2 separate regions of the Homo sapiens genome follow, and region 1 is linked to region 2. Evidence: fine-mapped expression QTL. A gene starts in region 2. The other region holds a variant in brackets. All regions are shown on one strand. Distances are from middle to middle.

Region 1 (5,380 bases), 77 kb before region 2:
ACAATGATGAACTCAGGGATTCTAACTCCTGGCTTCAAAAGCAGATACTCGCTTTAAAAGCCCCAAGTGAGAGTCTTATCTCCTGTAGACAAAGAGCTGAAATTGTGGAAAATCAGACACAACCTCTTATCATGTAAGTGGCTGACCTGCAACGAAAGGTGCATGCACAGCCTCGCCAGGTGTCTACTCTTAAAGTGAGGGCCCTGATTGGAAAAGAATGGGACCCTGCAACTTGGAATGGGGACACGTGGGAGGACCCTGATGATGCTGGGGACACAGAGCTTGTAAACTCTGATGAGACTTTTTGCCAGAAGAAACAGCTTCGCCATCCCCAGTAGTGGTAACATCACCTCAGGAGAAGAGAGCCAGCCCTGTTTGCTTCTAGACCTATAACTGGACTAAAGTCCCGGTGGCCTCCTAGAGGTGAAGTTCAGAGTGTGACCCACAAGGAGGTGTGCTACACTTGAAAAGAACTGCTAGAGTTTTCTAATTTATATAAGCAGGAATCTGGAGAACAGGTGTGGGAACGGATGTTAAGGGTGTGGGATGATGGTGGAAGGAACATAGAGTTCGATCAGGCTGAATTTATTGATTCGGGCCCACTAAGTAGGGACTCTGCATTTAATGTTGCTGCTCAGGGAATTTAAAAAGGTTCTAATAGCTTGATTGCTTGGTTAGCTGAAATACGGATTAAAAGATGGCTCACTCTGAGCGAGCTGGAAATGCTGATCTCCCTTGGTTTAATGTAGAGGAAGAGATCCAAAGGCTTAGAGAGATTGGGATGGTGGAGTGGATTAGTCACTTTAGACCTACTCATCCCAGCTGGGAGGGTCCAGAAGATATACCCTTGACCGATGCTTTGCGAAAGAGATTTGTGAGGGCAGCATGTTAATCTTCAAAGAGCTCTATGATTACTCTTCTCTGTATGCCAAATCTAACAGTGGGAACTGCAGTCACTCAACTACAAAATTTAGAACGGGAATAATTGGATCCTGACGTGGCAGAGGCCAAGTGGGAGCACTCAACCATCAAATGCAAGGTGGGCGAGCTACCATAATGGACCGCAGCAGAGGCAAAGCAGCAATCAGAATAATCTGACTTGTGTACAGCTTTTGCACTGGCTAATTAATCACAGTGTTCCCAGAAGTGGAATTGATAGGAAGCCTACTGAATTCCTACTTAATTCATATAAGTGGAAAACTTCCAGGTCGAGTGGACAAAAGACTAATCTGAATTATTAAAAAAAAGAGAGAATCACAGCCCCTCAATTTCCAGACTTGAGCCACTTTATAGACCCAGAACACCTTGAATGAAGCCCCTTGAGGAAGGACCCCACTACAGTAGAGACAATTTATGCTGTGAGTCTTTCTCCCATCCTTCCCCAAGGAGACCTCTGGCCTTTTACCAGGGTAACTGTGCACTGGGGAAAGGGAAATGATCAGACATTTCAGGGACTACTGGACACTGGCTCTGAGCTGACGTTGATTCCGGGGGACCCAAAACGTCACTGTGGTCCTCCAGTTAAAGTAGGGGCTTATGAAGATCAGGTAATCTAATGGAGTTTTAGCTCAGGTCTGACTTACAGTCGGTCCAGTGGGTCCCCGGACTCATCCTGTGGTCATTTCCCCAGTGCCAGAATGCATTAATTGGCATAGACATACTTAACAGCTGGCAGAGCCCCCACAATGGCTCCCTGACTGGTGGGGTGAGGGCTATTATGGTGGGACAGGCCAAATGGAAACCATTAGAGTTGCCTCTACCTAGAAAAATAGTCAATCAGGCCGGGGGCGGTGGCTCATGCCTGTAATCCCAGCACTTTGGGAGGCCAAGGCGGGCGTATCACCTGAGGTCGGGAGTTCGAAACCAGCCTGACCAACATGGAGAAACCCCATCTCTACTAAAAATACAAAATTAGCCGGGCATGGTGGCACATGCCTGTAATCCCAGCTACTAGGGAGGCTGAGACAGGAGAATCGCTTGAACCTACGAGGTGGAGGTTGCGGTGAGCCAAGATCGTGCCATTGCACTCCAGCCTGGGCAACAACAGCGAAACTCCATCTCAAAAAAAAAAAAAAGAAAGAAAAATAGTCAATCAAACACAATATCGCATCCCTGGAGGCACTGCAGAGATTAGTGCCACCATCAAGGACGGTGCAGGGGTGGTGATTCCCATCACATCACGGTTCAACTCTCTCATTTGGTCTGTGCAGAAGACGGATCTTGGAGAATTACAGTGGAGTATCATAAACTTAACCAAGTGGTGACTCCAATTGCAGCTGCTGCACCAGATGTGGTTTCATTGCTTGAGGAAATTAACATATCTCCTGGTACCTGGTATGCAGCCAATGATTTGCCAAATGCCTTTTTCTCCATTCCTGTCCATAAGGCCCACCAGAAGCAATTTGCGTTCGGCTGGCAAGGCCAGCAACACACCTTTACTATCCTACCTCAGGGGTATATCAACTCTCCAGATTTGTGTCATAACCTTGTTCAAAGAGACCTTGATCGCTTTTCACTTCCACAAGTTATCACACTGGCCCATAACATTGATGACATTATGCTGATTGGATCCAGTGAGCAAGAAGTAGCAAACACACTGGACTTATTGATGAGACATTTGCATGCCAGAGGATGGGAAATAAATCCGACTACAATTCAGGGACCTTCTACCTCAGTAAAGTTTCTAGGGGTCCAGTGGTGTGGGGCCTGTTGAGATATTCCTTCTAAGGTAAAGGATAGGATGCTGCATTTGGCCCCTACTACAACCAAGAAAGAGGCACAGCACAAGTTGGCCTATTTGGATTTTGGAGGCAACAAATTCCTCATTTGGTTGTGTTACTCCAGCCCATTTATCGAGTGACCCAAAAGGCTGCCAGTTTTGAGTGGGATCCAGAACAGGAGAAGGCTCTGCGACAGGTCCAGGCTGCTGTGCAAGCTGCTCTGCCACTTGGGCCATATGATCCAGCAGATCTAATGGTGCTTGAGGTGTCAGTGGCAGGCAGGGATGCTGTGAGAAGCCTTTGGCAGGCCCCCATAGGTGAATCACAGCGGAGGCCTCTAGGATTTTGGAGCAAGGCCCTGCCATCTTCTTCAGATAACTACTCTCCTTTAGAGAGACAAGTGCTGTTTGGAGCCTTTGGCAGGCTCCCATAGGTGAATCGCAGTGGAGGCCTCTAAGATTTTGGAGCAAGGCCCTGCCATCTTCTGCAGATAACTGCTCTCCTTTTGAGAAACAGTTCTTGGCCTGTTACTG[G/A]GCTTTGGTAGAAACCGAATGCTTGATTATGGGTCATCAAGTCACCATGTGACCTGAACTGCCTATCATGAACTGGGTGCTTTCTGACCCATCTAGTCATAAAGTGGGTCATGCACTGCAGCATTCCATCATCAAATTGAAGTGGTATATATGTGATCGGGCTTGAGCAGGTCTTGAAGACACAAGTAAGTTACATGAGGAAGTGGCTCAAACGCCCATGGTCTCCACTGCTGCCACCCTGGCCTTCTTTTCCCTAGCCTGCACCGATGGCCTTATGGGGAGTTCCCTATAATCAGCTGACAGAGGAAGAGAAGACTAGGGACTGGTTCAAAGATGGTTCTGCATGATATGCAGGCACCACCCAAAAGTGGACAGCTACAGCCCTATAGCCCCTTTCCTGAAGGACACTGGTGAAGGAAAATCTTCCCAGTGGGCAGAACTTCGAGCAGTGCACCTGGTTGTGCACGTTCCAAGGAAGTAGAAATAGACAGATGTGTGATAATACTGATTCATGGACTGCAGCCAATGGTTTGGATGACGGTCAGGGACTTGAAAGAAGCATGATTGGAAAACTGGTGACAAATTTGGGGAAGAGGTATGTGGATGGACCTCTCTGAGTGGTGAAAAAATGAAGTTATTTGTATCCCCTGTGAGTACTCTACCAAAGGGTGACCTGAGCAGAGGAGGATTTTAATAATCGAGTGGATAGGATGACTTGTTCTGTGGACACCACACAGCCTCCTTACCCAGCCGCCCCTGTCATCACCCAATGGGTCCATGAACAAAGTGGCCATGGTGACAGGGATGGTGGTTACGCATGGGCTCAGCAACATGGACTTCCACTCACCAAGGCTGACCTGGCTAAGGCCACTGCTGAGTGCCCAACTTGCCAGCAGCACAGACCAACACTAAGCCCTTAATATGACACCAGTCCTTGGGGTGATCAGACAGCTAATTGGTGGCAGGTTGATTACACTGGACCTCTTCTATCATGGAAAGAGCAGAGGTTTGTCCTCACTGGAATAGACACCTACTCTGGATATGAGTTTGCCTCTCCTGCACGCAATGCTTCTGCCAAGACTACCACCCGTGGACTCGCGGAAGGCCTTATCCATCATCATGCTACTCCACACAGCATTGCCTCTGAACAAGGCACTCACTTTACGGCAAAAGCAGTGCGGCAGTGGGCTCATGCTCATGGAATTCACTATTCTTACCATGTTCCCCATCATCTTGAAGCAGCTGGATTGACAGAATGGTGGAATGTCCTTTTGAAGTCACAATTACAACGCCAACTAGGTGATAATACTTAGCAGGGCTGCGGCAAAGGTCTCCAGCAGGCTGGGTATGCTCTGAATAAGCATCCAGTATATGGTACTGTTTCTCCCATAGCCAGGATTCACAGGTCCAGGAATCCAGGGGTAAAAGTGGAAATGGCATCACTCACCATCACCCCTAGTGATCCACTAGAAACATTTTTGCTTCCTGTCCCCATGACATTACGTTCTGCTGGCCTAGTGGTATTAGTTCCAGAGAGACGAACGCTGCCACCAGGAGACACAACAATGATTCCATTAAACTGGAAGTTAAGATTGCCACTTGGACACTTTGGGCTCCTCCTACCTTTAAGTCAACAGGCTAAGGAGGGAGTTACAGTGTTGGCTGGGGTGACTGACCCAGACTATCAAGATGAAATCAGTCTACTACTCCACAATGGAGGTAAGGAAGAGTATGCATGGAATATAGGAGATCCCTTGGGGTGTCTCTTAGTATTACGATGCCCTGTGATTAAGGTCAATGGGAAACTACAACAGCCCAATCCAGGCAAGACTACAAATGGCCCAGACCCTTCAGGAATGAAGGTTTGGGTTACTCCACTAGGAAAAAAAAACATGACCCACTAAGGTGCTTGCTGAAGGCAAAGGGAATACAGAATGAGTAGCAGAAGAAGGTAGTCATCAACTCCAGCTTCGACCACGTGACCAGCTGCAGAAACCAGGACTGTAATTGTCATGAGTATTTCTTCCTTATTTTGTTAAGAACATGTTTGTGCATGTATACATTTGTACTAAGAAAATATCTTCATTTTATTTCCCTTTTCCTTTATCATGTGACATAAGATTTATT
Region 2 (5,380 bases):
ACTTGTATAATAACAGAATCAATGTAAAAGTTTAAGAGTTGTGTTTGACTCAGCACTGTTATTTGCTAGAAAAAAAAAAATCTCATTCCCCATAGGCCTAGGATAGGTCCAGACAGGTCACCTGCAATCTCTAGCAGGCAATCTTTGCTTACTTAAATTCCCTAAACCAAGACTCATCTCTAAATGTCCAAGGTTCTTCTCGCCTCCATAATTCTCCCTATAGAATAAACATATCTATAATGGGAAGCACGATATTTTTGCCAGGGATGGTACACAATATGTAATCACTTGTTTGAAGACAAAATTAGTGGGAGAGTCTTCAACAAAACAGAAAATAAATAGTTTAATTTAATAAGGAGGATGGCATGGAAACTTTACCTCAAAAGCACTTAATTATTTTGTTTTCTCCAAATCAAAATCCTTTGTTGGATATATATTCCATCTTGGTGTTTCACTGTTGTTGCCCAGGCTGGAGTGCAAGGGCACGATCTCGGCTCACCGCAACCTCTGCCTCCTGGGTTCAAGTGATTCTTGTGCCTCAGCCTCCCGAGTAGCTGGGATTACAGGCATGTGCCACCACACCCGGCTAATTTTGTATTTTTAGTAGAGACGGGGTTTCACCATGTTGGCCAGGCTGGTCTTGAACTCCTGACCTCGTGATCCACCCGCTCTGGCCTCCCAAAGTGTTGGGAAAACAGGTGTGAGCCACCGCACCCGGCCTATATCCCATCTTTATTAAATAAATACCACTTGTAATGACATGAATACTATCTCAAAGGTCAGACTAATTTGAAGCCTTTTAGAACCTAAAATCCACAGGTAAAACACCTTAATTTATGGTCACTCATGTGGAAGGTCAATGTTGCTACTCACATAAGCTATTTCTAAGTTCCCCAAACAGATCCCCATCATTAACTTAGAGAAAAGTCCACTATAATAGCTACAAGATTTCTGTGAAAGACGATCATGTTTTATCTTTGTTTGCGCTTCAAGTGTTAGGATAAACGGACTTTTCCCAGGTGCCTCTCACCATCTCATTCCTTGCCTTTCCTCCAAAACAAGCAAAACTAAAACACTAAAAATTTTAGTCTGGTCCATACTAGTCAATAAAAATCTTTCCTCTTGTAAACACTTTATAGCACGATAAGGGACGTAGTTTGCAAAGATCATCTGTACATCCTGTGTAAAAAATAAAAACGCATGGCACACCAAACCCAGATCCACTTCGGTGAATTCCCTCCAGGGCCCAAATGTGTGCATTATGCAACAGCCAGCACTCCCGATTGTAATCCCTGTCTGTGATGCAATGACAAAATATAAATGGCTTGGGTATAATCTGCTCAGTTCGTAAGTAGTAATTCGCAAGAAGCCAACGAATTAAAAGAATTCCCAAATTCTCAGGAACCTTGAAAATGACAAATTGTGTCACAGTTCTGTGAGAATCACAATGAAAACTTTCCCTTCTGGAAATTTTTTAGAAATATGTCCCTCCGGTCCCAATCCCCCAAAAACCCGTACACACGTTTTAATTTACGTTAGGAACGGCTCTCCCAGCGGGGGAAGGTGACCTGCATCAGGTGGTTATCTTCGAATCCACCCGATACGATACCCACGCCGCTTCCCAGACGCTGAAAAGCCAGTGAGATGCTTCATCCTTTCTCCCCAAGGACAGTCATGGGAGTCAGTGTAATCCAGACCCCCGAGCCATAAACCACCCAGGGTTCAAGGCTTCACCTCCTGAGGCACAGGCCTCTTGAAAAATGGCATAATGGAGAGCTGAGAACACAATTAGGACAAAACTGCAACGACCAGCATTCCAGAGGAGGGAGAATCATACAATATCTGTTCCAAAAGTAGTTACAGGTAAAGGAAGGCGGTCAGAGCATCTCTGGAGGCCACCTGGTCGGGTGAACCGAGTCTAAACGCTGAAGTTCCACACCTCCCCGAGTCCGCGTCTCCCCAAGCCAAAGCAATCAGCTCGCACGCCAAGCATCCAGGTGGGGAGAGGGCGAGGGGAGGGGGCGGCAAGCCGCAGCTGCGAACCGGCCCGCGGCGGAGGCGAGCGAAGACGGGCATTCCCTCACACAAAATGGTGGCGCCGAGGCGGAGGCCGGCGCACCTGGGGGCGCCACACGCCCTACGGGATCCCCGCAGACCGCCGCCAGCTGGACGCGAGCCCCGGGTCCAGGCGGCCCGCACTGGTCTGCGCCAGGCCCAGCCCGCAGGGGCCGCCCACAGCCGGTGGCCCGCGTCGCCGCTCGGTGTCCGCGGGTCTGGTGCTGGCGGGGGCGCGGGGCCCGGCGCGGCCGTCTCGGCCTCACCCAGCGGTCCGCGCCGGGGAGAGGGAGCGCACTCACCTCAGACGCGCCCCGGGAGCCGCTGGAAGAGCCCGGGAAAGGAGGCGGAGCCGCGCGAATGAATGGAGCCGGCGGCTGCTCGCTGGCGACCTCCGGCCGGTCCCAGGCCGCACAGCTCGCGGCTGCCAGGGCGAGTGCGGCTGCCTCCCGCTCGCCCCGGACGCCCGGCTCCTCGTCGCGGGTCGGCCGCGGCCCACCGTGCCCTCCGACGACGTGACGCACTAGCGCCGCAGCGCCTCCAGCCTTCGCTTCCGCTCCGCGCCCGCGCCCACCGCGAATCCCCCCGCCCGCCAGCGCGGAGCGGCCCCTCCTCGGAGCCTGGGACGCCGCCCTGCCTCCCTCCAGCCCCGGCTTTCAGGCGCCGGCCCGGCAGGTGCGGGCTTGGCCAGCCCGGGGGCGTCACGCGGCCCCCGCCTCGCCACCCGCGCCCCCTCTCTCCGCCCCGGCCGCCGTCACCCGGCAGCGCGACGCCCAGCTCAGGGCAATGGCCTGGTATTAAAGAGTGACCTTGGCTTAGATATAAAAATAGATGCGGTTAAGCCGCGGGGGCTGCAACGCTGATTTTGCGTATTCCTTTAATGCCGACCTTCGCAGGATTCTGTTCGCATAGCCCGGTGGAGTTCTCCAGCCCCGCGTAGGCCCTCCTGAAATTTACCCAGAGTGGGCGCGGCCATCCCGGCCTCGGGACAGGGGTGCAGAGGGCACGGGCGAGGACCGCCGGCCTCCGCCCCACCACTTTCATCCTAAACCTACTGCCACTTAGGTGCATGCAAGTTAGAATCGTGGGCTGCTTTCACAGTCTACAGAAGTCCTAGAGCCCGGACTTTCATCTGGAGATGTCAGGGAAATACCACATTCCTGCGCTGACCTTTTCTCTTTCACCGTTTAACCGGTACAGAATAACCCTGACCCAGAAAGACAACAGGGTTCCATCCGGCTTTCCTCCCGTGCCTCTCCCAGCTCTATTCTACCGTCTTATGGCCTCTGGCGCCTTTGCTAATTACACACTCCTACTGAAAATTAGCCCTCCAGCATTTAAAACATGATAAATTGTCTTTAAGGTAATGCGTATTGTAGTCTAAATATATTTAATAACTGTATTGAGAAACAATATTGTATCTAAGTATTAATGTCAAGACTTTCTTTTACTCATCATCCAAGAACCGTAGTATTATGTTCAGCTCATCCAGAAAAGTTGAAAATTGCTTCTTTCATTCCTGGGAAATATTTAGCAATCACAATACCAACTTTCACGAATTTACTAATGATTAGCAAAATTAGCAAGATCAAAAAATACTTCAAAGAATGCTTGTTGATATAGATATATTTGACCCTGATTTTTAAAAAAAGCTTTTCTGCCATATAAGAATCTATTGTTTCATTTGTATAATATTTAATTAGCCAAAATCTTTACTATTACACATCATTTACCATTTTAATGAAACTTAATGAATTAGATTTAATAGAGCAGGAATTTTGGGTAGTTGGGTTCTACCCATAGCCAGTGATGAATGAAATTATATGACTTGTATTTACATTTCTAGAGCTATGTGTAAGTAGGAGTCCCCAGGGTAATCCCAAACAATTGCCATTTGGGGAAGCTTTGGCTACCAGACTATGCCCTACAGATGTTGAAGCCTCAGGCCTTAGTGTAAAGCTAACCAATACAACTTGTTGATAATATTTGAAATGCCTGGGTGTGATTGACTCTTAGCTATTGTTTTAGAAGTATGCGGGTATTTGTGCCTGGGTCAGGGAGGCCTGGCTCCCAGATGTCTGGCTATTCTGGTAGGAGACAGAACTACATTCACCCAGACCTATAAAAGAAAAGGTCCAATTTTTTTTTTTTTTTTTTTTTTTTTTTTTGAGACAGGGTTTCACTCCCACAGCCTAGGCAGGCTGGAATGCAATGGCGCGATCTCGACTCACTGCAACCTCTGCCTCCCAAGCTCAAGCGATTCTCCGGCGTCAGCCTCCGGAAGAGCTGGGACAGAGGTGCACACCAACGCACCTCGCTAATTTTTGTAGAGACGGAGTTTCGCCATGCTGCCCAGGCTGGTCCTGAACTTCTGAGCTCAAGCGATCCGCCCGCCTCGGCCTCCCAAAGTGCTGGGATTACAGGCGTGAGCCACTGCGCCAGGCCTGATTCTCTTTTCCCTACTTGCAAATGACACTATTTTTGAGAGTTTTTGGTTTTTTCTTTTTAAATCACCATTGACTTCCCTCTTTGGCTGAGATAAATTTTGCTTATCTTAGTGGGCAAAGAACAACAACTAAAAACATGAGCCTTTGTCAGATTAGTATATGCTGAAAATTGTTACCACAATATTTTGAAATATGCTTTGAGGCTTTTTTCTGAACCGTTTTTAGAGTAAAAGGATTATTGCTTTGGTTTTTGTTTTTGCAATGCTTGCTTTAATTATTACTTTGTTATTAGCAAAGGAAACATGTTAAGAGTTCGTTCTGATTGTATTTTTCCTCTATGTTTAAAGAGGAGTGGAACCATCTTAAGTAAAAGAAGCTTGCCACAACCCTGGATTTTGGAGGTTACTAATACACATGACCCAGAAAAGAGCTCTTTAGTTGCACTGGGGAAGAGGAATTCTTAATAGCTAAAATCATAACTGATGTTTTTGACAGCTAACAAATTGCCAGGCACTCTACAGACTTCTTTATGGAAATTAATTCACTTAATCCTCTTACCATCCTTGCAGGTATACACTGTTACCCCCAGTTTACCTAAGAGGAGTCTTGAGGCACACAGAGAAACTAAGCAATTTGCCCATGGTCACACAGATAGTAATCCTAGCATGTTGGCTCAAGAGCACACTCCCTTAACCAGAATTCCATACTGCCTTAAATGTGCACAAAATCCTATACCATATGGATAGATTTTGCTTTTGAAGCCCTAAAACATACTAAATGTCCTATACTTTCAAGTTTAAATAATTTCTTAGATCTAGTATTTTCCCAGACAGGAAGGAAGAATTAAAACTAGTTACAAGTTTACAAGTTAGAAAGAA

What was found.
Region 1: its variant is fine-mapped to the expression of FAM169A in whole blood (TOPMed, PIP above 0.99).

Annotation. Positions count from the first base shown.
Region 1 is chr5:74,786,645-74,792,024 of GRCh38, forward strand. All of the region lies in intron 11 of FAM169A (family with sequence similarity 169 member A), which reads right to left. Among named protein-coding and RNA genes, the nearest start is that of NSA2, 22 kb to the left of the region's middle. The variant G/A (reference allele first, on the strand shown) is at 3,254.
Region 2 is chr5:74,863,808-74,869,187 of GRCh38, forward strand. It overlaps FAM169A (family with sequence similarity 169 member A), which reads right to left and starts at 2,580. Exons shown (of 13, transcript NM_001376049.1): 1 at 2,358-2,580. FAM169A-AS1 (FAM169A antisense RNA 1) reads left to right here and starts at 2,086. Exons shown (of 1, transcript NR_134288.1): 1 at 2,086-3,468. RefSeq lists silencers at 2,027-2,196, 2,267-2,516.